Linked DNA regions of Homo sapiens. The protein of the gene in region 4 purifies or fractionates together with the protein of the main gene of each other region. This does not show direct contact. Each region holds a gene or a part of one and is shown on either strand. Other genes may lie near its edges. The genes, in order: CHD4, UBXN4, MAP3K20 and BCL11A.

Region 1 (7,021 bases), on a different chromosome or scaffold from region 4:
TCCTGGGCTCAAGCAATCTGTCTGCTTCAGCTTCCCAAAGTGTTAGGATTACAGGCGTGAGCTACTGCGCCTGACACTTCATGTTATTATCTTTATTTATTTATTTTATTATTATTGTTTTTTTTTGAGACAGACTTGTCACCCAGGCTGGAGTGCAGTGGCGTGATCTTGGCTCACTGCAAGCTCTGCCTCCTGGGTTCACGCCATTTTCCTGCCTCAGCCTCCCGAGTAGCTGGGACTACAGGCCATCGCCACCATGCCTGGCTAATTTTTTTTTTTTTGTATTTTTAGTAGAGACGGGATTTCACTGTGTTAGCCAGGATGGTCTTGATCGCCTGACCTTGTGATCCGCTCACCTCCTCCTTCCAAAGTGCTGGGATTACAGGCGTGAGCCGCCGCACTCGGCCTATTTATTTATTTATTTATTATATTTTTTGAGACAGAGTCTTGCTCTGTGGCCCAGCCTGGAGTGCAGTGGTATGATCTAAGCTCACTGCAACCTCCGCCTCTCAGGCTCAAGTGATTCTCTGCCTCAGCCTCCAGAGTAGCTGGGATTACAGGCGTGTGCCACCACGCCTGCCTAATTTTTTTTTTTGAAATGGAGTCTCGTTCTGTCGCCCAGGCTGGAGTGCAGTGGCGCAATCTCAGCTTGCTGCAACCTCCGCCGCCCGGGTTCAAGCAATTCTCCTGCTTCAGCTTCCCGAGTAGCTGGGATTACAGGCACCTGCCACCATGCCCGGCTAATTTTTGCATTTTTAGTAGAGACGGGGTTTCTCCATGCTGGCCAGACTGGTCTTGAACTCCCGACCTCAGGTGATCCGCCTGCCTTGGCCTCCCAAAGTGCTGGGATTATAGGCGTGAGCCACCGCGCCCGGCCTGATGCCTGGCTAATTTTTTTTTTTTTTTTTAGTAGAGACGGGTTTCGCCATGTTGGCCTGGCTGGTCTTGAGCTCCTGGCCTCAAGCGATCTGCCTGCCTCAGCTTCCCAAAGTGCTGGGATTACAGGCGTGAGCCACTGCACCCGGCCAACACTCTATGTTAATTATTAACTGACTGAATTCTGGTGTTTGAGCTCTAGGAAAGTATAAATTAGAGATAATTTTTGGTCAGAGACTGGTACAGTAGAGGCTCTGAAAACGTGTGATCTGTGGCATACCTAGAGGTCTGGTGTGAAACAAACGGTATTGCCAGTTTTTGAGAGGAAGTGAGGAGGGTTGCCTTTTCTGGCTCTGAGGGTTTTCTCTCCTGGACTTGCAGTGTGGACAAGAAGGGCCACGTCCACTACTTGATCAAGTGGCGGGACTTACCTTACGATCAGGCTTCTTGGGAGAGTGAGGATGTGGAGATCCAGGATTACGACCTGTTCAAGCAGAGCTATTGGAATCACAGGTGAGTGATTTTGGGTGAGGCATAGAGTTGTTTCTTTTTTTTTTTTTTTGAGATGGAGTCTTGCTCTGTCACCAAGCTGTAGTGCAGTGGCGTGATCTTGACTCACTGCAACCTCCGACTTCCTGGTTCAAACGATTCTCCTGCCTTAGCCTCCTGAGTAGCTGGGATTATTTGCATACGCCACCACACCTAGCTGATTTTTTTTTTTTTTTTTTTTGAGACGAAGTCTTGCTCTTGTCCCCCAGGCTGGAGTGCAATGGTGCGATCTTGGCTCGCTGCAGCCTCCGCCTCCTGGGTTCAAGCAATTCTCCTGCCTCAGTCTCCCGAGTAGCTGAGATTACAGGCGTCTGCCACCATGCCCAGCTAATTTTTGTATTTTTAGTAGAGACGGGGTTTCACCATGTTGACCAGGCTGGTCTCGATCTCCTGACCTCAGGTGATCCGCCCGTCTCAGCCTCCCAAAGTGCTGGCCTCCCAAAATGCTGGGATTACAGGTGTGAGCCACTGTGCCTGGCCAAGTTGTTTCTTCTATAGAAAAGGATTTTGGGCAGCTGTGTGATGTCTTTCTTCTTTAGGGAGTTAATGAGGGGTGAGGAAGGCCGACCAGGCAAGAAGCTCAAGAAGGTGAAGCTTCGGAAGTTGGAGAGGCCTCCAGAAACGCCAACAGTTGATGTGAGTGGGGGTGGAAGGGACTGTAGTTTGTTGGGTAGGACAATGTATCTTTGCTGCAGTCTAATGATGGTACTCTTAAGTAATGAAATGCAGATAGTAACTTTGTAGCTGAGATTACTTCACAAAGTCGGCTTCCCCACTTCTCCACATCTCTATATATCAGAAAGCACTAGGATTACTTTCTTCTTTTGTCATCAGAAAAAAAAAAAGGAGGTATATTTTGAATGATTGAAGAAGTGTTGTCTGGGGGGAGGGGCCACATAGCCTAGCTTTTATGCACTTACATAGGAATCTGGCTTAATTCAGGCTCAGTTCCTCTGGGTTTTGTTTGTACAGTGTAATTTGAGGGTGATTAAAGTTAAAAAGATGAATCTAAGAGGGACATAACGATTATTTACCTGGTGGATCCTGACTAGTAGAATTATTGTATTGGTAGGGAGTCTGTGACGTGCTTTTCCTCAGTGATCTGTAGGATCAAAATCAGGTCTGGTTAAGCCCTGTTTCCTGGAGGACCCTAAACTGAACATGAAATTGCAGTAATCATAGGGGATCTCTTCCCTCCGAATTTTCCGGAGCTCTTCCCCAAGAGGATCCGTGAAGACTAGTGAGGAGGAAGCAGCTGCTCTATTAGGGGAGGAGGGGAGTTCCTTGCCAGCTCTTGACTTCTCTGTTTCATCCTTCAGCCAACAGTGAAGTATGAGCGACAGCCAGAGTACCTGGATGCTACAGGTGGAACCCTGCACCCCTATCAAATGGAGGGCCTGAATTGGTTGCGCTTCTCCTGGGCTCAGGGCACTGACACCATCTTGGCTGATGAGATGGGCCTTGGGAAAACTGTACAGACAGCAGTCTTCCTGTATTCCCTTTACAAGGAGGTAAGGAAATCTGGGGTGGATAGTTTTTTGTGTGGGTGTTTTGTGTTTGAAGCCTTAACTTACACTGAGTAGAGAGATAAGGGAATAAAAAAATTGGTCTCTGACCTTCAAGAACACTGTGGATAATAGATAAACACATGTACACATGTGTTTAGTAGATAGTAGATAAATGTGATAGTGGATAAACACATGTACACAGCGGAAGATTTGAGGGCATGGAGCCCTGGGTAGGATTAGCAGTGGATCCATAGAGTATCAGTTCTAGGGGAATGATTGTGTGTTGAGGGAAGTAGAATTATGAGTAGAATTAGTATGGAAAGGCTTGGCTGGACGCAGTGGCTCATACCTGTAATCCCAGCACTTTGGAAGCCCGAGGTTGGTGGATCACCTGAGGTCAGGAGTTCGAGACCAGCCTGACCAACATGGCGAAACCCCGTCTCTACTAAAAATACAAAATTAGCCGGATGTGGTGGTGCACGCCTGTAATCCCAGCTACTTGGGAGGCTGAGGCAGGAGAATCGCTTGAACCCGGGAGGTGGAGGTTGCAGTGAGCTGAGATTGCGCCATTGCACTCCAGCCTGGGCAACAAGAGTGAAACTCCGTCTCAGAAAAAAAGTATATAAAGACTTAATGGGAGAGGTAAGACTTGTAGTTATGGTGGGACCTTGGGTTTTTGGAAAGGAGTGGGCTGGGCACTTGTATAGAGGAAGGTGAGAGCAGGAGCAGCAGCGCAGGTGTGTCAGTCCTTGGCTCAGCTTGAGGGGGCAGCAGGGTGGTGGGTGTTCGCTGGGGTTGCAGTGTGCTGGGGCCCTCAGTCCTGACTCTCCTCTTTTTTCTCAAAGGGTCATTCCAAAGGCCCCTTCCTAGTGAGCGCCCCTCTTTCTACCATCATCAACTGGGAGCGGGAGTTTGAAATGTGGGCTCCAGACATGTATGTCGTAACCTATGTGGGTGACAAGGACAGCCGTGCCATCATCCGAGAGAATGAGTTCTCCTTTGAAGACAATGCCATTCGTGGTGGCAAGAAGGCCTCCCGCATGAAGGTATCTCAGGGGAGGGAAGCCACCCTAGAGAAAGAGTTGTGGCTTCTGGCTTAGTTTACCTCCTTGTGATCTGGTCCCTGGTGAGGCAAAAGGGTAACCCTGGGAGGAGGAAAACATTCCATCAGTCTCCTGGTTGTGCTTACACAGAGGAACTGACTAGTAGTGACCAAGTTGCCTTCATGTGCAGAAAGAGGCATCTGTGAAATTCCATGTGCTGCTGACATCCTATGAATTGATCACCATTGACATGGCTATTTTGGGCTCTATTGATTGGGCCTGCCTCATCGTGGATGAAGCCCATCGGCTGAAGAACAATCAGTCTAAGGTGAGGGCTGAGGGAGGGATGTTGGAGCCCCCACTTTGGGTTTTTTCTAGTACTACCAATTCATTAAGGGGAAAACTTGTAGATGGAGAGGAGAGGGGAAAATTGTCTCTGCCTTCCTTCCTTGTATGTGACAGCCCTTGGTGGCCAGGCCTTTAAAAAGAATGTGAGGAGTGGGATGCTTAACTATTGGGCAGTGAAAAACTTGAAATTTTGTAGAGATTTGCTAGAGCTCTGTTTTCATTGGATTTCACCTTTCTCCATCTGCTTCACCAGTTCTTCCGGGTATTGAATGGTTACTCACTCCAGCACAAGCTGTTGCTGACTGGGACACCATTACAAAACAATCTGGAAGAGTTGTTTCATCTGCTCAACTTTCTCACCCCCGAGAGGTTCCAGTAAGTATGTGTTTATCTGTAATCGGCTCATAATTGTGCCTCTCATTCTTCCTGTTGCCCATTTCCTGTATCACTTTTCTTTCTTCCTTTCTCCTTCTCCAATAACTTTTTTCCTTTTTCTTTCTGAAGCAATTTGGAAGGTTTTTTGGAGGAGTTTGCTGACATTGCCAAGGAGGACCAGATAAAAAAACTGCATGACATGCTGGGGCCGCACATGTTGCGGCGGCTCAAAGCCGATGTGTTCAAGAACATGCCCTCCAAGACAGAACTAATTGTGCGTGTGGAGCTGAGCCCTATGCAGAAGTGAGTTGGGAGGGACAGAAGCAGACTCCATTTAGACATCTGCCAGTCTGCAGAGTGTTTCCTATTCCTCCCCCACTCAGCTTCAAGGCATCTGGTGACAGGAGCAAGCAAGGCCTGAAGAAACCTGATGCTAGGGCGCTGGAGCGCATAGTTCTTACTTATTTTAGGTTATACCTTTCCTTATTTAAAATGGTGGTGGTGGTAGTGCTTGTGCGTTAGGTGTCCTTAGTTCCAAAGTGGGATGTGTTGGAAGAAAGATCTCAGTTGTTGGCACTGCATTATTAGTCATTGAAAGGCTCTCAAGTCTAACCTGTCTTTCTACCTTGCCCATGTAGGAAATACTACAAGTACATCCTCACTCGAAATTTTGAAGCACTCAATGCCCGAGGTGGTGGCAACCAGGTGTCTCTGCTGAATGTGGTGATGGATCTTAAGAAGTGCTGCAACCATCCATACCTCTTCCCTGTGGCTGCAATGGTATGTAGTGCCATCTCCTGTTCCTCCCTGGGTTGGGTCTTCTCCATGTGGGCTTTCTTTTAATACTTTTTTCTTTGCATTTGTTCTCAGGAAGCTCCTAAGATGCCTAATGGCATGTATGATGGCAGTGCCCTAATCAGAGCATCTGGGAAATTATTGCTGCTGCAGAAAATGCTCAAGAACCTTAAGGAGGGTGGGCATCGTGTACTCATCTTTTCCCAGGTATCATGTGGACTGGGAGCTTTAGGGAACAGTCATAGACAACCCTTAGTGACCTAAGGAAAGGGATTACCATCTGACTCTTCCATAATTAAACCGTGCTTCTTTTGCAGATGACCAAGATGCTAGACCTGCTAGAGGATTTCTTGGAACATGAAGGTTATAAATACGAACGCATCGATGGTGGAATCACTGGGAACATGCGGCAAGAGGCCATTGACCGCTTCAATGGTGAGAGAGAAGGAGTTGTTTAGTTTCAGGAATCCTCATTTGCTTATATCTTTGGACTGTAACTTCTTGTGCATCTCCTTTTCTGTGTAGTTCTTTTGGGACTTTGTCATTTGAGATGGAGTAAAGCTTTTGAATGTCTCAATTGGACGAATGTATTGGACTATTCCTAGGAGATTTTTTCTTTTGGGGTATTTGTTCTTTCTGCTAGAAAGAAGAAAGCATTGTATCTCGAGGGCAAGCAAAGGGTCAGGACTTGTTCAAGCTCAAATAGCAAGTTACTAGCAGACTTGTCTGCCTCAGTAGACGCTACTAGGTTTTTTTTTTTTTTTTTTTTTTTTTTTTTGAGATGGAGTCTTGCTCTGTCGCCCAGGCTGGAGTGCAGCGGCACGATCTTGGCTCACTGCAACCTCCGCCTCCCGGGTTCAAGCAGTTCTCCTGCCTCAGCCTCCCAAGTAGCTGGGACAACAGGCGTGTGCCACCACGCCCAGCTAATTTTTGTATTTTTAGTAGAGATGTGGTTTCACCATGTTGGCCAAGATGGTCTCGATCTCCTGACCTCATGATCCGCCCACCTCGGCCTCCCAAAGTGCTGGGATTACAGGCACGAGCCACCACGCCCAGCCTGTTTTGTTTTGTTTATTCGAGATAGGGTCTCACTCTGTTGCCGAGGCTGGAGAGCAGTGGCACAATCATGGCTTACTACAGCCTGGACACACCCCCAGGCTCAAGTGATCCTGCTGCTTCAGCCTCCCAACTAGCTGGGGCTGTAGGCTTGATCCACTGTACCTAGCTAACTAAAAAAATTTTTTTGTAGAGATGGGGTCTTGCCATGTTGCCCAGGCTGATCACAAAGTTCTGGGCTCAAGCAATCCTCCTGCCTTGGCCTCCCAAAGTATTGAGATTATAGGCATAAGCCACTGTGCTCAGTATCACTACTCCTTGTTTAAAAAAAAAAAACTTTTTATTTTAATTTTAGACTTAGAAAAAAGTTGCAAAACAGCAGAGAGAGTTCATGTATACTGTTCAACTAGCTAGCTTCTCTTAATAATAACTTACGTAACTGCAGTACAATGATCAAAACTAGAAAATTAA
Region 2 (7,070 bases), about 75 Mb from region 4:
TCAATGCTTAATGACAACTTTCCTAATACTACTGAGTGGGATGACTGATTGCTAACTCTGGTATCTTTCATTTCTTATTTTTAATCAAATTATCAACTATAAAGTTAGGTGGGCCTAAGATTTTAGGAGAAAACAGCATATCCTTTGTATCGGCAGTATCCTAAGCGAAGGCACTTAAAGAGAGCAACACGAACTCAGAAGCAAAGAGTTGCAGACCCTCATACAGCCAGTCTTTCCGATGTAAAATAAATCTCAACTGCTCAAAACCTAAAGGCTTCTGTGGTCTACATTCACCAAAAAAGGCAGAAAATGGCGTCTATCATTAACAAAGTTTGGCCTACCTACCTAGCAACATTAGCCAGTGAACAGATACCTTTACTTCAGTCTCGTCAGATTATTCTACCTTCCCAAGTATTAAATGAATATCGTTTTGTTTCACTTACTTTACACAGCCACAATACTTTGAAAATCATATTAATTTGTTAGCTGAAGTAGTAGTAATCTCTCGTCTCCTAACATCAACTCTACAATATTCTTTAATTCATCCATGAAAATGTCACTAACTAAAGACCACTTGCCTAAAACGTTTCCCACTTGAACAGTTCTATGAACCAAAGTGTACTCTTGAGATCACGTCTTCCAACTATAAAGACATCTTTCAAATTTTCCATTAAGTTGGTATATTATTACTGAGATCTTAGACCTAAGAAAATCACAAGTTCTGACTTCAGAGTTATGAAGAAAGCTCTAAGCAATCTGTAAGTGTTTTGGTTTCATGAGTCCAGTATCTACATACTCCTAGAGTGACACTAATCCTACTTAGTCTTGGGGATTAACTGGCTAAAGCTCTAAAAAAGCTAGCTGGATTTTGGAACAGGTCAAGGGACAGACAGAGACTCCTTTGTGAGATTGCTAACAGTCTTCCTGCAAACATTCAAGAGTCATTATATTCTAAATACATGTAATACATGCTCATCAGTAAAAACTTAATTGAAGAAAGTATATATATATACACAAAACCCCGAAAGGCAAGACCTATAACTTTATTTAACTATTCCAATAATTTGTACTAGAGTTTCCAAATATTAATATTTGTTAATAAAAATCTCTCGTTTCTTTTTTTAAATTAACTGATTTACCTCAAGAGTGCCTTCTAGGAATGTTTGGACATTTGTTCAAAAACATGACTACCATAATCCAAATTTCTGATTTCTATACCAATTTAAATCACCAATTTACAAATTGTTCAGTTTTTTCCTTAAGAAACAAAAAAGCCAGTTTTTTTGAAGCTACTAAAAAATTTGACTGTTAAGACATGTAAATCCTTTTTGTGGCCCTAGTGCAAGTCACTTTATGACTGCTGACCTAAGTGCCTCATCTATAAAATGGGGATAATTAAACCTGTTCTATTTACTGCAAGGATCAACTGAGATATTAGGAGAAAAACAATTTAAAATGTCAAAAACCTACTAATGTACACAATAAGCATAGTGTCATTTACTTTTCCTTTCATTTTCAATCCATTTTTTTCCTTACGGGATTACAGAATTAATTTATGTAAAGTATAATATAACCCCCAGACAGCATCACAGAATCTAAACTATTCAAGCTCTTCTAATAAACAGCATTGAGCTAAAAACTTGGCGTAACAAAACAATTATAAATTCCAAATTTAATGCTAAATGACATTCACATTTCAGTAATTCGTTCTTCACTGCAGTGCATAAAGTTATAGAGCTATTAAAAGACGAGTTAATTATGAATAAACCGTTATTAAACACAAATAGTTGAAGAAATACACCTCAAATTAACAACAGCCACAAACATTGATTTGGTCCATGTAATGAGTATGAGCAGAACCGTAGAGGCAGGGAGTTCACTGTAAATCTACAAGATTTCAGTAATAAAACAGGAGAATATGGAGCAAAATAGCCTAGAGCAACAGAGAATATATGAGTTAATAAACGTTCTCAAAGTCGTGTAGATTTTAGCCTAAGAAGACAACAAAGGGAAGAAACCAAGGACTGAACGTCTATTTTCTTTGAAACTAATGGATTTTTTTTAAACTTACATTATTTCACACTAGATCCCCTACCAAGACTGCCATAAAGAAAAATTAAACCTCTATTCAGCTCAAAAGTTTACGTTTCAGGAACGTACTAACACCAGTAACCGTGAACATCAGGTGGTTTCTCTTTGTTGCTTATCGATGACACAGCTTTCTTCCCGACAGTCCACAACTAATTACAACCCAACTGCTTGCCTAATGGCCCGTTCCTACCTCCATCTAAACAGCAGTAACGAAACGGGCGTTCAAGCAGCACAAAGAGGGTCCTTGGTGACAGAGAGGGACGTCAGGGAGAGGGTCGCGGGGGTCTGGCTGCGCAGGGGAGAGGCTCGGGGCGACGAGCGGGGCTGGGCGGCTGGGGCCTGCTGGCCGCGTCCGTCGCCCCGAGCGGGGAGATTTCGGCGGGCCTCGGGGCGCTTTGGAGACCAGGGCCAGACGGTGCCTCCGGCCCGGCTGCCGGGAGACGCAGCGGTGGGGCCAGGCCCACTGTATCTCAAACGAACCGGGGAGGCGCTGAACAGCCACGGGCCGGCAGCCCGGGCCTCGCAGACACTGAGGAAAGGCTGGGGGCGCCCGGGGCCTGAAGGAGCAGGGCGCTGAGGGTCTGCATGGCCCCTCTGGGGGATCTGGCGGCGGAGTCGCAGCCGTCCCTGGGGCGCGGGGTAGTAGTGGCAATTGTGCGAGCCGACAGGAGCCCGCGTCTCGGGGAGGGCGGGCCGGCGGCTGAGGTATACAAGAGGATGAAGGTAGGCCGGAGGGGTGTCCCGGCCGCCTCTCGAACCCCTGCCTCCTTCACCTGCCACGAACACCACGAAGACCGCGCCGCTCCTTTTGGCCGTCGCGATGGCGGCCGGAATGGCGCCCTGGAACCACAGCATCGCTCCCTTCGGGCCCAGGCGCTCGCTCGGTGTGTAGTCTCCGCAGTCCCGAAGCCGGCTCCGCCCTCCGTCTTCGTCCGGCTCTGCGGCCCCCGCAACCTTGGCTGGTTCGGCCCCCACCTCCGGCTCCGCACAAGCGCGCACGCCCGTCAGCGGCACCCGGAGACGCGCGCTAGCGCGCGCGAGAACACCTCACGTCACAGTCGCAACCCGTCGGTGTCCGTGCCCCAGGACCTTCTCTCGTTGGCGAGTCGATGGTGCGGGCGCGCGCCCGCTAGGCCTCCGGTCGCGCAGTCCAGGAAGTGGAGGAAAGCGGTAAGAGGGATGACTAACCGCTAAGACACGTCGGCGGCGCCTGCAGTGAGGCATGATGGGAATTGTAGTCCACTTAGGCTTATTCGCCTCCATATTGTGGAGCATGTAACTGTGGGTTCTGAGGCACAGCTAAAGGGGGCAGTAGTGAGGGCCACTACACATTCTATAAAGGGGAGAGGGAGAAATAAGTGTCACTCCAACTGGCATATGCTATTCTCGGCCTCGTTGAGACTCTCAGTGTGGAGGAAATAGTCCTCGCATGGAACTAAATGGGCTTTGTCGGGATTAACTCCGAGGCTTTGATTTCTTCTGAACGTAGCCCAACCTTGCAGAAAAACGGGATAAAAACCGCAAGTCACCTTCTTTAATAACCTGTAGTCCATGTGCCTAAGCGGAGGAATTGGTAGAACGCAGGCCTTCAGCAATTTCCTAGACACTGGATAGAGATCATTTCAAAACTTCAAAACGCGTTAGGCTATTGCCACAGCTACTTTTTAAAGTAACACAAAGCAGAGAATAGATTATTTCTTTTCCAGCTACTTTCCATGGTAATACAAAAGAGACTAGATAGTGATTTATTTTCCAATTTTCTGGGAGAATGTCCTATAATCAAGATGTGGCGCTTTGTGATTGGCTGCCATTAAATGAAAACTGATCCATATTTAATACTTTCATGAAATCACATGGTCTGTAATAACTATTAGCTAAAGGCTTGCATGGTTTATTTAAAGTTGCATATACTATTATGTTAAATTCTACATCAATTAAATTTATCCTCCAGCAGTACATCTATCTGACAATCTTTGCAAGATAAAGGAAGTGATACATCTGAATATACCACCTTTCCTACAGATATTTTCCCTAAAAATAGCTAATTATTTGCACTCCGATTTTTGTACTTTTTTTCCCAATCAGGCCTCTCGTATATAGTGTTATTATAAACTGAGACATAATGCTGATTAGGGACAGTTGCTTCTATAGGACAACAATCCTACAGAAAAATTAGAATTGACCTTTAACATCAACTTTAATGGACTTCTGGAAATTTGATCAATCTAGAAATTATTCCAATAGAGCTATGTCTTTAATTATCTCTAATTTTAGAATTAAATAAGAATCCTTCATAGTTTTATATTCATTTGTCAAGTGTTTATCACTCATCTTTTATGAGCTAGGCATTGTGCCTGGCACTGATAAGGAGGTGAGGCAGTCAGAAGAAGGCCCTGTCTTTGTGACTGTACAGTCTAGTCAGGAAGACAGACATTGAATAAGTAATTATGAGTGATGATAAATGTCACAGAAGGGTAATTCAGAGTGCTACAGAAGTGTATGAGGATGGGACCGAACATGGGCTAGTGGAGTCAGAAAGGGCCTTCATGAGGAAATGACGTGTCGGGGAACTCTAGGTAGGTGAAGGAGAAGGCTATTCCACATGAGGCTCTGAAGCAAGCAAACACAGTGCACTTGCAGAACTAAAAAATGCCCAGTGTGGCTATAACATAGAAAGAGGAGTGTGGTACAAGTGAGGCTGGAAAGCTAGGCAAGGATCAGATGATACAGAGTCTTGAAAATCATGTTAAAAATTTTAAGACATTTTTCTAAGGATTACAGGGAGCCATTGAAAAATTTTAAACAGAAGAGTTGGCCAGGCACAATGGCTCATGCCTGTAATCCCAGCACTTTGGGAGGCCGAGGCGGGCAGATCATGAGGTCAGCAGTTCAAGACCAGCCTGACCAACGTGGTGAAACCCCATCTCTACTAAAAATACAAAAATTAGCTGGGCGTGATTGCACATGCCTGTAATCCCAGCTACTCAGGAGGCTGAGGCAGGAGAATCGCTTGAACCTAGGAGGTGGAGGTTGTAGTGAGCCAAGATGGCACCACTGCCCACCAGCCTGGGCGAAAGAGCAAGACTATATCTCAAAAAATAAATAAATAAACAGATACATATAAGACTTCCATTTTTAAATTGTATGATAGCAATTGAATAGATTGGATTTGAAGTGGAATGGCTGAATGTGAATAGACCAGGTAAGAGGTACTTATTCATGTATTAACATAAGGGAGATAGTGAAGTGGATGCTTTTGATATTCTGGAGACAGACCCAATATATTTTGTTGATTACATGTGGAGGTTGAGGAAGAAGGACTCAAGAAGGGATTTTGTGGCCAGGTGTGTTAGCTCATGCCTGTAATCCAAGCACTTTGGGAGGCCAAGGCAGGAGGATCACTTGAACCCAGGAGTTTGAGGCTGCAGTGAGCCATGACTGCACCGAGCCATGACTGCACCACTGCACTCCAGCTTGGGCGACAGAGCAAGACCCTGTCTCTAAAAAAAAAGAGAGAGAGAGAGATTTGGGGTATCTGCCTTGCAAAATCGTAAAGAAGATGGTACTGAGATAGGCAACACTGAAAGAAGTGAAGGATGGTGGGGAGGTTGTTCATGAAGGTGTGAGTTCAATATTAAACATGTGTTTGGAGTACTAGAGAGATATTCACATGCAGTGTTAAGTAGGCAGATAGCTATTAGTCTTGGAGCTCAGATAACAGTTCTTAACTAGAGATAGGAAAGTGAGATTTATCTACATACAGGGGATCAATGAGGCACTGGAAGATAACGATACCATCACTTAGGGAGATGGTGCAAAGTGAGGTGAGACACGAGCATGATTGAGGTCTTAGGGCCTCCAACGTTTATAGGGTTGTATTAAAAAGTATAAACCAGTAAAAGAGACTCAGCAGGAAAGGCAGAGTGTGGGGTGGTGGAAGAAAATGGGAGAGTGTGTGATATCAAAGAAGCCAAGGGTAGAGAGAATTTTAAGAAAGGAGAAGCAGTGGTGTGGAATGCTGCTGTTGGGTCAATTAAGATGAGAGACTAAAAAATGTCCATTGTTTTTAGTAACACAGAGGTCATTTTAAGCTTAGCAAGAGCAATTCTCATGGTTCTTGTGTACAGAAGCCAGATGGCAAAAGGTTGAAAAGTAAGGGGAGGTAAAGAGTCAGTGAGTGTGAAGGTGAGAAGGAAGAAAGGAACATTAGCTGGACAGGAATTTGGATTTGAAAAGACAGCCTTTTTAAAGATGGGAGAGATTTGCATAAAATTAAATGCTAGTGGAAAGGAACTGGTCTTAGATTGAACAAATGGGAAAATGGAAGGCCCCTCTGGAGATGGGAGGGAAAATGGGGTATACAGCACATTCTGTTGATGGCCGATCCAGCAGTCATTCTTCTACCATGCCTTCTATTATTCCTTCCTGACAGAATTCACTTTCTACTGAGAGGCAAAACTGCTGGGTGCAGTAGCTCACTCCTGTAATCCCAGCACATTGGGAGACTGAGGCAGACAGATCACTTGAGGTCAGGAGTTTGAGACCAGCCTGGCCAACATGGTGAAACCCCATCTCTACTAAAAATACAAAAATTAGCCAGCCATGGTGGCATGCACCTGTAATCCCAGCTACTTGGGAGGCTGAGGCATGAGAATCGCTTGAACCCGGGAGGCGGAGGTTGCAGTGAGCAGAGATTGCGTCACTGCACTCCAGCCTGGGCTACAGAGTGAGGCCCTGTCTCAAACAACAACAACAACAAAGCAACCTGCCAGATACTGGGCTTTTCAACCTCCCCTTGAAGCCAGTAAAACCTTGTAGGAAGGGTAGGGGGGTGGGAGGGGCTACTTCCAGGAAAAGCTTTCTTAATAAAAGACACATAGAAGAAAGCACAGATTGGGCGCAGTGGCTCATGCCTATAATCCCAACATGTTGGGAGGCTGAGATGAAAGGATTGCTTGAGGCCAAGAGTTCTAGACCAG
Region 3 (7,021 bases), about 110 Mb from region 4:
ATATATTAAATACTTTTTACGTTCTTTTTTATAAAGAAAAAACCTGGTTTAGAAATTAGGACATCTAGAGCCAGACTTAAAATTTTATGAAACCAATGGGCCTGACTGATTTAATGTCATCTCATAAATTATCAGAATTTTTATGTTCTCACAAATTAGATTGTATATTTTGTTAGTTAAAACTCGTTCTACCTTCAATTTCTGATACATTTGTCTAGGAAATAATAACTGGGAATTCAACAATATTTTAAAAGGTTCAATAATGGTCTCATCAAAAATAACTGAGCCCCAAATCCAAATCACTGGCTAACCTACCTACCCCACAATGGTAGATACTTGCAAAATTGTAATATTTAGATTTTACAAGTTACATTTTAGATTTTGGAGAAATCTCCCGCAAAATGAGTCGGTCTAAGGGATCTATTTTCATCTACCTACAATATAATCTATTATACCATACTCTAAGATGTAATAAACACTTTCTATACATATAAGCTGACTATGTGAAAGTGAGCTTATGTGTGTGTTCATCTTTGTGCAGTTCTTGAGATCAGTATGATTATTAAATCTGAGTGGAATGCCCAAAGAAAGCAAATTGATGCTAGGAATACTGCTGATTTTGGGTTCTCTTGAAACACTGAGTAATGGAGATTTGTATACTATGTTACTTTTCCCTGTTTATACAAATGGAGTTCAAAAATGTGAGTCTACCAATACTCTGTAAAGTGCAAAAACAATTCTAGTTTTATCAGTAATAGTCCTAATAATAAAAACCACCACCGCTTATTGAGTACTTATTATATTCCAGATGCCCTTTTCATATATTACCATGATTAATAGCAATCCTACTGGATACATCTTACCCTTATTTTATAGGTGAGGTAACTATTTAAAAAGTTAAAAAAAAAAAACTTGCCCAAAGACAGTCAGTTATCCAGTGACAGAGCCAGACTATGAACCTGCTGGCTCACCCCAAAGGTCAGGCTCTTGACTCCTTTTAATGTGAGTGAAGGGAAAGTGACAGTACTTGAGAGAATGCGACAGGCCCTGTCTTAGGTATGGCGCCCTGGGAGAAGCAGGAAGAGAACCAGTGGCTTCGACTCAGATTTCCCTTGTTTTAAAAACAAAAGCTCATTTCTAATAGGAACGTAGATGGAGCACACATACTCTCTAGTCAAGCAAATCATAGAAACCTTTCACTCCATATCCACTATTTCCTCAGCCAGTGCTCAGTCTCATTTCAACCATAACACAGTAAATGAATTCTGGCTAATACGAAGATAATTAGCAGGAAAATCAGGGAAATTGGCAGATGCTGCTCAAGCAGGAGAAAAAAAATTCACTGAAGCCTCTTTGGGCTTTTAATCAAGTGTGTAAGGTACTCCTTTAGAGGAGCTACTGAATAATTCTATTTGAGTCACACAAGTGATTAGGAAAAGGTAAGGGGCATCCCACAAGGGGACAATTCTAGTGAACACCACACGTAAAGGAAGGGTGACAGAACAGGTATGCAATCACCCTGACCTACACAGGGAGGGAGGCTGGGCAGCAAGAGGGCTGAGCAGGAAATGGAGCCCCTCATTTGGCTGCAATTACCACTCCACAGGGGGCTAGGGCTGGGGAGGGGAAAAGATACGAAGGGCAAGTAAATTAATGGATGTGGCATTCCTAAGGAGAATGGGAACAGGGAGTTAGCCTCCAATAAATCAAACGCTCCAGACCCCCAAACGCACAGATGAGCAGTGCCTCTTCTGAGTTTGGCCTGCAGGTATGATAAACACGCCGTGTACATGTGTGCACACATGCACAGACTGAATTTTGTGAAGTAAATTGCAAATCCAAGAGTTTGGGGGGACAACACCAGAAAAACATTTACGTCATTCTTGATTCCAAAATATTCTGCTGGAAAATGTCCAAAATCTAATAAAATTTAAGTTATATTTCTCTGAGAGCTCTAACCGTGAAAAATAAAGAAAAAAATAAGCCAATTCCATTTGACTCCCTCTGTGTCTCTGAAGAGCTACTACAGCTGAGGGAGTTACTTGATGGATGTAAAAGTGTCTGAGGTGGGGTCATTAGCTGCTATGTCCTGAAGCCCAAATGAGGTCTTTAGTTTAATTCCAGTATCAGCACATCTCATGATTTCCTTTTATTAATTCCCTGGATTTGGGGATGTATCAAAAAGCAGGTGGTATAAGATAGGACATCAGCTTTTTTTTTCCACACTAAACAAAAATAACATTTGGCATACAAAAGTAACTTTACTGAGGAAGTCACTTGGAGGTCTAAAAATATATTAAATGATGCCTAAAAATACCAGTTATGAGGATTCAGGCCAAATATTATTGTGATCTTTCACCTTAAAAATATTTTCCGACTCATTTTATATTGAGACGTCCTCACATTTAAACTGTGCTCACAAGGAAAATTTATGTTTTCAGTTTACAGAATAGAAACTTGGAAAAGACTACGTACTTTTTCTGCCCTTTCTTTTCCAAACAATAGAAAGCCATTACCTGAGCCCAGCTTGTTCTGGAACAGTGCTCACAGACAAGCCAGGCAGCCATGCTGTCTCTTAAGCCACTATGTTTTCAAGGCTGGTTTTGGCTGAGAAGCTTCTAAGAAGGTAATCCTTTCTGCATTGTCATTAGAATAGCTTTTTTTTTTTTTTTTTTTTTAAAGAGAGGCTAGGCCTTGTGTTCTCAGAAGGCTTATTCTTTCAGTGATTTTTGCTTTTCTTTTTTTGTGGATAACATACTAAACACTCTTCCAGGTTCAGTCCTCCAAGAGTTCTCATAAGAGGGTAGAAAAATCTCATTTCTCATAAAATGGAGGGAAACAATTGCCTCCCTAGCAAAGTTTACCAGCTTAAGAGCAAGGATCATAAAATCCACTTCTGGCATTCACAGCACATTTATTTTAAGGCAGTACAAGGTTAGTGAGTCTTGCCATTTGTTAAGAAGCAACAAAGGTTTATCAACCTGGGGAGGGCTGGTGGTTTTGGGAGTAGTAGGGGCTAAATTCTTACAGCAGTCTAAAAAATTAGAAAAACAAAAAGCAAAAATATATTGCAGTTTTTTGGGTGGATTTTAAAAAAAAAACCTTTTTTTTAATGGTCTTATTCATCTGTATGTGACTGCTGTGTGTAGAGGGGGTTTCAATGAACAGAACAGACTCCCAATGAACAATGGGATATTTAATGCAAATAAATGCTCCTACTGACAAAGGAGTCTTGGCTACTCACCTATTTTTGAAAAGACATAAAAAATTCAAAATAACCACATTTTGAATTAAAATAGGTATCATTTTCCAAGTTTATGGACCACAAACTTCTAAAACTAACATGGTCCCAACCTTAACAACTATCCTCACCTGCTCTTTTCTATAACATCTACTTTGAACACATAATGCTTTCTTCATTAAAAAAATACCTGTGGTTGTTTAAATAAAAAGTCGCTGGAAAGCATACCTCGTATTTTTTCTCTCATTAATGGTGTTTATTTAGAACAAACAGAATGAGAAGAGGTCAGAATTAAATATTAGGTTGGTGCAAAAGTAATTGCAGTTTTTGCCATTACTTTTAAATGGCAAAACTTCAATTACTTTTGCATCAACCTATACAGTCCTGAGTTCTTGTTTATAATTAAATTAGCATCTGTACACTTTTCTGAATGGAATTCTGCTGACACAACATTCTGTGAGGCAAACCAGCATTCCAAGCAAACCTCTGTCTTCAAGACTCACACAGCAGAAGCTGTTTTAAAATAGACTCACTCACTGAAATGGCATTTCTGTTTCCACCAGGTAAGGGAAGGCTCTAGCATGAATGCAGAATTGATATTCCACATCACATGATGGGGTGGACAGGTTCTGCAGAGCAACATCCAGTGTGTAAATACAGAGCAACACTGGAAATGCTCAGTGGCTGGTGGTCGAGTTTGTTTCAGTAAGTGAAATTACTCCATAGGATGGTTTGTTAAGCATTTGTTAAATCCCTCCAAAACCAAACCAAACTAAGCAAAGGTAGGGTCAGCACACAAGTAGAGAGAAAAGCTAATCCACAAAGAGACGTGTTCAAGCCCTTCTACTGAAATGTGGTGCATAGTTTCTTAAGTGAAAAGATTTTTAATAAAAAACACTGAAAATGTGCAGCTCCAGAAAGGTTGACTCAAACTATGTTTAAGAAATGGGGTCAATGTGGAATGTATGAAGAGATTTTAAAATGATACAGGAAAAAAATCCTAAGCTCTCCAAACAGAAGTCACTCTTAACATCTTTTATAGTTTATGTGTGAAAAGGAATTTGTGCTTGGCTACTGGTACTAAGATTGTACTTCATCTCAGGAAAAGCAGAGGGGGGCATTTCACACCAAAGCCCTGGCAACTGTAAGGCTTTGAAAGAAGGCAGCATAAAGTTTGTTTTCATATATGAAATAATGTTGAGGCTAAAAGTTCAATGTATGTATAGTTGTGTCTTAAGGTCAAAAATTTTTGAGATAAGGAAATTCAAACACTTGGGGAGAATTTTAAAAGTAAAAGCACTGTATGTGTGTGGACTCATAAGTGCAAAAATGAACCTCAAAAGTCTTCTAGTTCATATAAATGTGACAAACAATTTAAAAGCTGTAACAGTCTACAATAACTATAACCAACATACATATATACCTAACACCAACAAACATGTTTATATACATTTATATACACATGCACATTAAAGGAGTGGGAGCAGTGGGCTCCTGGTGAGCCACTCTGAACGGTCAAGCCACGTTCCTAAACCACGCTGCTCATCTTCCCAAGCCCTCTTGTTCCAGGGAGGTGCCCGCAACGATGGCCTGCTGCAGAATACAGAGTGGCTTTTTCATGTTTGATGGGTTGTAAGAAACAAAAAGCCAACTATGGCATCTATGAAGACTATGCAACAGAGACTGTAAGTGGCCCTCAAAGCCAAAAATATATATTATCTGGTCCTTTCTAGAAAAAGTTTGCTTGTTCCTATTTCAACAGGACAAAACGAGAGGCCGTTCCCAACAAGCAGGCTAAGAAAAATTTAAATTACTCTCAGGTGGTGTGTGCCTCAGTAAATAAACGTTTGGTTATAAATGAAGGAATGCACTTTCACAAGAGAAAACAATCTTACAAAGAGTCTTAAATTGCTACAAATACCCCATTTTCAGAATATCCCACAGATGAATGTATGATGGTTAGAATGTAGTAACATTTGACATAGGAGACCAGTTTTATAAGCTAGTCTCCTCTGAAACTTATGAGAAATATTTGATCACTGTAATAGCTTATAGTCTTCATTCTTAAGAAACCAGAATCAAGGGATATCAGGTATTGATTTTTTTTCTTTTTTTGGATATCAGGTATTAAGCCTGATGTTACTCTTGCCTTCTGACCTTTAAAATTCTAGCCTTCGGTCAAAAACATATTTCATTCTTGAAATGATTTTTTCAATAGCTAACAAAATTAATCTTTATTAATTTGGTATACATAGGATGTGTTATGATTTACAAAAAGCTAGTCACTGAAACAAGTCCAAAACCTGTGAAGCCAGCATTAAATACCTAGAGACCGAATAAAGAAAACAAAACAAAACAAAACAGGTCTGACAACGTGAATCTCCTCTTGTGTCATTGGCTACCACCTGCAGTAAGAAAACACAGAAGTTCAGGACGAAGAGACAGGCTGATTTGGACCTAAAACAGGCTGCTTCTTTACCCATTACTATGAAAATGCCCTTTTAGGAAGTAATAGTATAAACAGCAGGGCAGTATAATAGTATAAATAGCAGGGCAGTATGAGATGTAAAGACAGGGAATTCCAAAACTATTTTGGACTTTTTAAAGAATACGTAACATTTTAGGGAAAAGTTTATCCTCAACAAAAGGCAACAAATGAATTCCTTCCTCCAGCAAAGAACTCTCCCACTCCACTTCCTTCTCTCTGATAATGCAGGTATAACCTATTCCTCAGGAAATGGCCCATCTCCAAATTCCTCCTCCAGGAGCTTCTGCTCCTTAACGGATTCATTCCTGTGGTCTCTTCCTTGAGCACTCCACCCCCTCATTAGTCTATTCTCTATGTGGCTCTGCTGTGATTCTTATGTAATGCCTTAGAGTCACGCTTCAGATAGTCACTGCTACTCTAAGACTGGCAGCAGACATGGACAAGGTCATCTGGTAAGTGCTAAGTACATTTTCTTTTGGACTTTTAGAAACCGATGAATCAGTTTAATAGTTGAGACTCAAAAGTTTCCTGGTAATTAACTCGCTTGGCAGATCTATTGGTGATTTTATACTGTTTAAGCAATCCATTACAATGAAGTCCTGTTCCAAATGATCCACATTTCCATTGAAATTACAGAGAGAGTCCACAGTCACATTACCACCCTGCAAAAAATCATTCTCACAGGCAAAGCGGAGCCCAACACTATCTCGGATTCCATTTAATTTGTTTCTTGGAAGTGGTGTTGGTTTCTTCTCAACACAGGACAAAATAACTCCGATGATTAAAAATGATTAAACATTTTGGCAACTAGGAAGCGTTCTCCAATGGTGCTGCTTTAGGCATTCCACCAGCAGTACAGTCTCAAATAAAAATAAAACCATGTTAAACTGTATCTCTCTTCTTTTGAGTGTTTGCTTTTTGTATTTCCCTTAGTAAACAAGAAATGAGAAATGAACTCACCACACCATAGGAATATGTGTCACAAGTTTCTGACACAGGGAGACTCTGGATAACTTCTGGAGCCATCCATGGGAAAGTTCCAACCAAGGACATGTGTGTTGTATGGTTATGGAACCGAGAGGCACCAAAGTCACAGATCTGAGAAAACAGGAATCAGTGTCAACTTTCTACTTATTGGCTAATTAAGGGATTATCAGTTACAAAAATCTACATCTGAAATTAACAATTTTTTTAAGTAAAAGAAATAGTCCTACCTTCAATACTCCATCAGCAGCTATAACAACTAAAAAAAGAAAAAAGGATAAATTATGACAATCATCTAATTTGTTTGA
Region 4 (8,006 bases):
CCCCCTCCCAAACTGGCCCTTTAACCCCGGGACAGGAGGAGGGGGTACTAACCCTCCCAGCCTAGAGTGTCCCAAGATGGACCCAGGAGGGAGAGGGGTACGAGGGAGCAGCCTGGACTGCGCGCCCCGGTCTGTCCTTTGAGCCCCCACTGCATCCTTCCGAAGAAGGGCCTGACTTTCCCGAGTCCTGCGAACACTGCCCTTCCTTCCCGCCGGTACCTGGCCGGGCTGTAACTTCACACCGCCGCGCGCCGCGTCTGATCCGCATCCGGCGCGGCCGGGGGAGTTGGGGGCGGGGGAGAGCGGCGAGGGAGGGATGCGAGGGGGTGGGGAGAGGGAGGGCCGCGCAACGTGCCGGGGTGGGGGAGCTTCCGAAGTGTGTGACAAGTTCCAGGGCCCAGTGAAAAATTAAATTCCCTGTGCGCACCCCCCACCACCACCCCTTTAAAAAAACACAGAACCAAGTATAGGTGGTCCTTTAAAACTGCATCAAAAATTTAAAGTAAGAATCATAAATTGAGTAGGGGGGGAATGTGGGCCCTCACGCCTTTCTTTCCCTTGCTGCCAAACTTTCCTAAGTGCCCACCGCCCGCCTTTCCAGGCGCAGTCAGCGGGAGACAGCCACCACCACCAGCTCTTATACAGACTCACAAGAACCTCAGACCAAGCCAGGCCTGGGGAAGAGGGCAAGACCCAAAGGGTGAAGTGCTCGGGGTCCCAGGATCCAGCGCCCTTAAAATGCACACTCAAACACACTTCTCCCCTGCCCTTCCCCGGCAACCCCGCCACCTGGCCTAGTCGTGCTCGGGGCGCAGGGGGACTGGTGACCAGACCGGGCGGGGTGGGGGGTGGGCAGGGAAAGCACGTGGTGACCTCCTCGCGGTCCCGAGCTGTGGACAAGAGACGTCTGAGAAAGTACCCAGGGCGGAGGGGAGGGGAGGCGCAGAACGCGCTTTTACAGTTGCCCTGCAAAATAAAAATGCTTTGCAAAGCCGAGTTTCACCCAGCCGATTTCGCAGTCTGGGAGGTCGAGAAGAGGTCTCGGCATTGTGCTGGGGGCGGACCAGGACCACGGGCCAGGCTGGCGCGGAGACACTGCGTGGCCTGCCGCCGTGCCTGGCGGGTGGGCGCCGGGCGCCGGGTGGGCGATCCGGGGCTGGGCTGGGGCGCGGCGAGGTCGGGCAAGGCCCGGGCGAGGCCAGGCCGCCGCCGCCGCCTGCTCCGGGGCTGCCGCGCCGCGCTCGGTCCTCTGTCTGTTTGTTGGCAGGAGGCTCCCGCACACGCGGTGCTTGTAAACATTCAGACACGAGATTTTTCCCAATCAAAATCCACTTCCACTTTTTTTGAAAATCTTCCAAAAAATAGTAAGAGGAGGGAGTTCCTCTCTCCCTCTCCGTGCCGTCGGCGCCCTAAGTTTGCAACTGAAGGGGTTTGGGGGAAGAGGGTGATTGTAAATTTTTTTCTAGATGAGAGATTGTGAGATTTTTGCAGGGGGGCTGGTGGGGGAGTCAAAGAGAAGGCCGTCACAGAAAAGGGTTGGCAGAGCGTTTGGCTTCGGTTTGGGGGCAAGAAATTGTACATTCTCTTGCCTTGTTTTATTTATTTTATTTTTATGTATTTATTTATTTATGTGCCAGTCTTCTCCTTGCTGCCTCTGAGGTTCGGTCGGGAGGGGAGGGCAGCGGCAACCCAGGAGGCAGCAGTCCGGGCTCCCTCCCTCCCTCTCCCGCGTGCCCCCGGCCGCCTCCTCCCCCGGCCCTAGCTCCTGCCCTTCGGCGGCGGCGGCGGCGGCGGCGCGGGAGGGCAAGCGCGAGGAGCCGGCACAAAAGGCAGCGGGACAAACACCCACCTCTGGCCGGAACAAAAGGCGGCAGTGCCGGCCGCGTCTCCCGTCCTTCCCGGTCCCACGGCTCTCCCCGTCGCCGCGGCCCCTCTCCCGACTCCGCGGACTCAGGAGCGCCGGGGGCCCCTTTCCACAGTGCCACTTTCTCACTATTGTGGGGATGACTACTTTCCTCCCGCTGCACACTTGACCGTGAGCGCGCTGGTGTCCAAAAGCCAGTCTCACCTCTTTTCTCCCCGGGAATCGTTTTTTAGACTTGTACTCACTCCCTCCCTACCCCCCCATTTTCTTACGGTGAGTGGGAAGCAACCTCCCTTTCCCCACCAGCTCCCACCCCCAGGTTTGCATGTGAGTTGTTCGCAACCTTAGCATTGTTCATTATTTTGCAAAACTGGCGGGGCGGGGGGGGAGTGGAATCATTGCATTCCTTTTCGAAAAGAGAAATAAAGCGGCGGAAAGGAGGAAAGAGGAGGAGTCAAATTTTTGTAAAATTAAATAAAATTAAAAGGTGCGTGCTGTCTCAAAAGTGCATACACGGCAATGGTTCCAGATGGGATGAGGGTTTTTTCCCCCTTTATCTCTTTTACCTCGACTCTCGGAGGTTTTTCTCGTGAAAAATTTAAAAATGCATGCACACACCCCTCTCTCCCCCTCGCTTTTGCTTCTAGTCCTGCGCGCTCTCGTGATTATTAATAATTATTATTACTATTATTGGGTTACTTACGCGAGAATTCCCGTTTGCTTAAGTGCTGGGGTTTGCCTTGCTTGCGGCGAGACATGGTGGGCTGCGGGGCGGGCGGCGGCGGCGGCGGCGGCGGCGGCGGGCGGACGACGGCTCGGTTCACATCGGGAGAGCCGGGTTAGAAAGAAGGAGACTCCAGAGAAAATATCTTCATCAGTGCCTTTTGACATCCAAAATAAATTAGAAATAATACAAAGATGGCGCAGGGAAGATGAATTGTGGGAGAGCCGTCATGGCTTTTTTTTAAGCAAAAAAAAAAAAAAAAAAAAAAAAAAAAAGAGGGAGAGAGAGAGAAGAGAGATAGAGGGAGAGAGAGAGAGAGAGATGAAAAAAATGGCAAAAGCCCCCCTGAGCTGCAAGTTCAAGTGCGGACGTGACGTCCCTGCGAACTTGAACGTCAGGAGTCTGGATGGACAGAGACACACAAAACATGGGCAGGGCGAGCAGGAGAGAAGGGGAGGAGGGAAGGGGAAGCTCACACCAATGGACACACATCAGGGGCTGGACATGAAAAAGAGACCAGGACAAGCCAATGGCCAGTGCGGGGAGGGGGAGGTGCGGGGCGGGGGGCTCCGCGGACGCCAGACGCGGCCCCCGGGGGAGGGGCGGGCCGAGGGGAGGGGGCGCTGGGGCCGCGGGCTCACCAGTGGCCGCAGCGAGCGCCGCGGCGGTGGCGTGGCCGGGAGAGAAGAAAGGGGTGGCAGGGGTGGGAGGAAAGGGTGGGGGGGAGCAAGACGTGCGCCCTGCTCCCCCCCACACACGCGGACTCTAAAATGAAAGATTATTCAAAAAAGAAAAAAATAGAGCGAGAGTGCACCGGGAGGCTGCAGCCCCGGGCTGGGGAAGCGCGGGCGGAGGGAAGCCAGGTAGAGTTGCTCCCGGACACCCTCCTCCGTACGCACACCCACTTCCCCTCCCCGCCGCCGCCGCGCTCGCTCCCCGCGTGTGGACGCCAGGGGCCGAAGTAAAAGCCCCGAGCCCGCGGCTGCGCTCGGGAAACTTTGCCCGAGGAGAGGACAGCAAAGAAAAATCACCCGAAGTTGAGAGCTGAGCCTCCAAGTTACAGCTCCGCAGCGGGCGAGGGGAGGTGGGAGGGAGCGCACGGCAACGCGGAATCCAGCCTAAGTTTGGAGGGCTGCGGGTCCGGAAGGGCAGCGCCCAAGTCTCCAGGAGCCCGCGCGGCCTGGAAAGAGGGGACCGGGGAGAGGCAGGCGGCGCAGGCCGGGGCCCGAGGGCGCCCCCAAGGCCGAGCCAGGGACCGGGAATCTGAGCGCCCCGCCAAGCGACTGGGTCTGAATGCAACTGAAAGCGCCGAGTCCCCGGCTCCTAAGGGTCGCAGAAAGAGAGCCCGAGGAATAAAGAACGAGGAGCCAGAGTCTGGCCCCCGGAGGGGAGCGCCGGGGGCCTGGGCAAGAGAGGCACCGAGGCGTCCACCTCTCTGAGAGGCCGAGGACAAAGCGCGGGCAGTCCCGGGAGTCCCAGTCCCTGGGAATGTGCTCACGGCGCCGCGGGAGGTCCCCGAGCCGGGTCCCTGGGAGGGACACACCCCCTCCCACTCCAGAGCAACTGCAAAAGCACAGAGGGATGGGAAGAAAATGTTTCTTACGGGCAGAGCACAACTGTTCCTGTGCTGTTACCCAGGGAAAGAGAAAATGGGAATGGAGAGAGAGCGACAGGCTCGCAGGAGCAGCGGGGAGACCACGGTGGTGAGATGACCGCCTCGGGTCACCGCCGCGCTCCCCAGGCGCCGCCGGCCAAGGCGCACACCCAGGAGCCAGCAGCCCCCTCTCGCCTTTCTGCAGACGTTCCCTGGAAATTAGGGAAGACCTGTTGGAAATAAAACCCTGTCTCTTTAATGCACACACGCACACACACGCGCGTGCTGCCGCTGTCAAAAAGCGGGCTTCACTCTGGCGTGGGATACTTTCAGTTTTACGTAAAATGTACAGCAACAGCACCCCCTGCGATTGGAAAGTTTATTCAGAAACGTGCCTGTAAAGTCCCCTGGCGCCTCCCGCCTCCCAGCCTCCCTGCCTGCCAGCACCACTCTGCAGCCGCCGCCGCCGCCGCCGGGGAGATCGCAGTCCGATTCCAAATCTGGAAGGAGTTGGGGGGAGAGGAGAATGGACTCAGGTCCAAGGGAGGTGCGGAGGGTGCAGGGTGGAGACGGGTCGCCATGGCCCGCGAGACCCTGAGCTGCAGGTGGATATGTGTGAGTGTGTCTGCAGAGCGAGGAGCCCTCCTTCCCTCTCCTCGGAGCGGTTCCACAACCCCCGTCTTCTCATCCCCCTCTTCAGTCTAAAGGGTGTCGCTTCCGTAAACTCACCCACCCGGTGGGGGGGCTTTATTGTTTTAAGCGAGGGCCCCGGGCTTGCACGCGCTCACCCATCCCGCAGCCCTGCCGGCAAGCGGCTGTTTATTCCTGTTTCGTCTTAGTAAAGTTTCAAGTCTACTGTGTTAGAAAATGACTGGCTTGCCTAGCTCGGCGGAGCTTCGGACCCCTCTAAGGAAGAAAAGGAGGTTTTGATGCTCAACATTGAGAGAGATGTGGGCTGTACTGGGATTGTGTCAATGTGGTTTGTTGTTTGTTGTTGTTTCCCTCCAGTTTGTGGGAGGGAGACCTCAAATTCTGTTTAAGAAGCGGGAGGATTCACTAGAAGTTAAGCTCTGTAGCTTGTGTGTGACACCATTTCCCCTTTTCACTGAGTTCTTCAGAGCAGGTCAGCATCTCTATTCCACCACAGTCTGCTTTTTGTCTTGTTAAACCAGCCTTGGAGTCACCAAAAGAATGTCTTCTTGGGGGGTGGCGGGGGAGGACGACGTGGGGGACGGTTGGAGGGAAGGTGAAGAGAGGGAAGAAGAAAGTGCAACTGGGAGGCCTTTGAAAAATAAATAAATAAAAGAAAAGCCCCTTCAGGTAACAATAGTGAGCCAGATTCTTTCAGAACCAAGCTTTTCAGATTTGAATATTGTTCCCACCCGTCCATAAAAGTCCATCTATAGAGAAGATATATAAATGAGCGAGTGAGTGTTGTGGAAATATATATATATGTATGATTTATATATAATGGTGTGTATAAAGCTTTTCGGGGTTGGCTGTAGTGTAAAAAGTAATGACTTTATTACCTCTGAAAGGTTCTGTGGTTCACATTTAACAGTCTTCTGAATTACAATTCATTACACAATTGTGTGCGCTCTGACGATGGCACCCTATCAGGGCTGCTATCTGTGGCTATTTCCAATAAATAACTGGCAACATTTTATTGATTTTCCTTTTTAAAAAAAAACATAGGAAATTAAGCACTTAGTTACAAGTAGGTCTGCTATGTTATTGCACTTGTTTCAGATTCCAGGGGGTTCCTTCCTAAACCACATCTTAAAACATACATTAAAAAGCCAGTTTTGCAGCTGCTTTCCCTGGGTGCCAAAGGAGAGGTAAGCAGCGACGATTCCCCGACATATATTTAATTTCACCATCATAATATGCCCAGGGTGAAATGGGAAGTGCCCTCCGCTCCCGCCCCTCCCCCAGCCAGATTTCACCCAGTCCAGAAAACCACGGCTGTGTGTCGGCATTTGATCCCTCCTGGTCGTCGACCCCCCTCCCCGGCCCCTGGTGCCCTCCCCTAGGGCGACAACCCCTCCCTCAGCACTGCTGGATGCTCGCTAAAGAGCCCGAAAGTGGGGGAGGGGAGGGTTTGTATGTGTGTTTAAAGAAAGATGTGTCGTTTTAAGAGATTTTAAAATATTACGTAAGTATTGATTAATGATGCAGGTGGTTTTGTAGAGGGGGTGAAAGGTCACTTTAAATGCGCACACTTGGATACACAATAAGTATATTTACCTTTCCAGAAGTGGCTTTTAGAAAGTAATAAATTATGACAACGTTAAAATTATTTTCTGGCCGTTCAGTTAACTTCGTTTGGGGCTGTAGAGCTGTTGCTGCTCCCATTGAAAGGGTAATTACGTTCCGTGGGCTCTTTCCCAAACCTTTGGTGACGACACTGCGTGTAAACTCCAGGCCAGCAGACGACCCCTCCCCTTCCCTCCTCCCCCTTTTTATCTTGCCCGCGGAGGAGACGCCCCAGGACTTCCTGCAGTATATATTCTGCCTCTGATCTCCGTACTTAATAGCCAAGTCCTAGTTTATGCTTTATAATGTGTTGACAAGTTTTCTAACAGACTTTCTGAAATAATGCACATATATTCACGTCGGTTAGAAACCCACCGTATTTTTAGAGTTGAGTAGATCTATACCCTAATGCAGTGAGAGAGTGTAAATCATACAGGATTTCATAGTCCTTTCAGTAGTTTTCGGTATGAAGTATGAGCCGCGTGGCCTCCAGACGTAACCTTTTAGAAAAAAAAAAAGACAGTGCTTTTATTTTATGGTGTAAAGTGCTTTTAGCTCAAGGGCTCTGAACGTGAATGTGGTCAACAAACAGCTCGAAGAGGGAGACTTAATACAGTCCCAGCCCTCGGACCGAGGATCGCCTGGCGCGAGGAACTCGGGCTGAGCTGGAAGATGAAGGGTTAAAAGGTCTGTCAGGATGGAAACTACAAGATTAAAATAAAATATTCACTGTCTGCCTTTAGGGGGAAACACCTTCATAGACTCAAAGATAAATAAGTGAATGACTGAATGAATGATTAAAAATACAATCATTTCCTTCTTGATTTTTACTTTAGCCTTTTTTCTTCTTTTTATTTCTTTTCTTTTAATTTTTATTTTTTGTTTTTCCTAATTGGCAGGTCACAAAATAGAGAACAGGCAGTCATCTTCATAAAAATAAAACTTAGGTTTGGATTCTATGCTTGGCATAGGTTTTGTATTTTGGGTCTCAATGATGGAAGTGCTAGGCTGTTGTTAAGACAAAGGAAAAATGAATTTTAAAATGTTGGGAATGGCTGGGGGTGGTGGCTCACACCTGTAATCCCAGCACTTTGGGAAGCCGAGGTGGGAGGATCACTTGAGGTCAGGAGTTCAAGACCAGCCTGGCCAACAATGTGAAACCCCATCTCTACTAAAAATACAAAAAATTGCTGAGCATGGTGGCGCATGCTTGTAGTCCCACCTACTTGGGAGGCTGAGGCACAAGAATCGCTTGAACCTGGGGGACAGAGGTTGCAGTGAGCCAAGATCACATCACTGCACTCCAGCCCGGGCAACAGCCTGTCTCAAAAAAATAATAATAAAAATGTTAGGGAGTTGCTTGTGGAAGAGGATGAGCTTCTTTTTCCTCCTCTACTCCCAGTGTGACCCACAGGTTGGGAGGTCCCTGGAGGACAGTATCTATACCTTCTACAAAGGCACAGACATCTCTCAAGGAGGCTCCTGGGAGAACCATTAGTCTGGCATCTTTCTCTCCAGGCTCCCTGGGCCTTTAGCTAGCTAGCAGTCAGCGCTTCAAACACCTGAAT

The links.
Region 1: the proteins of BCL11A (region 4) and CHD4 purify together in Homo sapiens (affinity purification with mass spectrometry; 5 studies listed by BioGRID, with this or other methods). This does not show direct contact.
Region 2: the proteins of BCL11A (region 4) and UBXN4 purify together in Homo sapiens (affinity purification with mass spectrometry; 4 studies listed by BioGRID and IntAct, with this or other methods). This does not show direct contact.
Region 3: the proteins of BCL11A (region 4) and MAP3K20 purify together in Homo sapiens (affinity purification with mass spectrometry; 2 studies listed by BioGRID and IntAct, with this or other methods). This does not show direct contact.

Annotation. Positions count from the first base shown.
Region 1 is NC_000012.12:6,590,374-6,597,394, reverse strand, and holds part of CHD4 (chromodomain-helicase-DNA-binding protein 4), read left to right. Parts: intron 1-1,257; coding exon 1,258-1,389; intron 1,390-1,964; coding exon 1,965-2,061; intron 2,062-2,744; coding exon 2,745-2,936; intron 2,937-3,778; coding exon 3,779-3,979; intron 3,980-4,166; coding exon 4,167-4,304; intron 4,305-4,577; coding exon 4,578-4,699; intron 4,700-4,828; coding exon 4,829-5,002; intron 5,003-5,337; coding exon 5,338-5,479; intron 5,480-5,569; coding exon 5,570-5,701; intron 5,702-5,811; coding exon 5,812-5,929; intron 5,930-7,021. UniProt on the Homo sapiens protein: ATP-dependent chromatin-remodeling factor that binds and distorts nucleosomal DNA. Acts as a component of the histone deacetylase NuRD complex which participates in the remodeling of chromatin.
Region 2 is NC_000002.12:135,737,806-135,744,875, reverse strand, and holds the start of UBXN4 (UBX domain-containing protein 4), read right to left. Parts: upstream 3,022-7,070; 5' UTR 2,947-3,021; coding exon 2,865-2,946; exon of another isoform or gene 2,232-2,864; intron 1-2,231. UniProt on the Homo sapiens protein: Involved in endoplasmic reticulum-associated protein degradation (ERAD). Acts as a platform to recruit both UBQLN1 and VCP to the ER during ERAD.
Region 3 is NC_000002.12:173,190,846-173,197,866, reverse strand, and holds part of MAP3K20 (mitogen-activated protein kinase kinase kinase 20), read right to left. Parts: intron 6,973-7,021; coding exon 6,944-6,972; intron 6,828-6,943; coding exon 6,690-6,827; intron 156-6,689; exon of another isoform or gene 1-155. UniProt on the Homo sapiens protein: Stress-activated component of a protein kinase signal transduction cascade that promotes programmed cell death in response to various stress, such as ribosomal stress, osmotic shock and ionizing radiation.
Region 4 is NC_000002.12:60,550,649-60,558,654, forward strand, and holds the start of BCL11A (BCL11 transcription factor A), read right to left. Parts: upstream 3,007-8,006; 5' UTR 2,623-3,006; coding exon 2,568-2,622; intron 2,067-2,567; exon of another isoform or gene 1,850-2,066; intron 260-1,849; exon of another isoform or gene 220-259; intron 1-219. UniProt on the Homo sapiens protein: Transcription factor. Associated with the BAF SWI/SNF chromatin remodeling complex. Binds to the 5'-TGACCA-3' sequence motif in regulatory regions of target genes, including a distal promoter of the HBG1 hemoglobin subunit gamma-1 gene.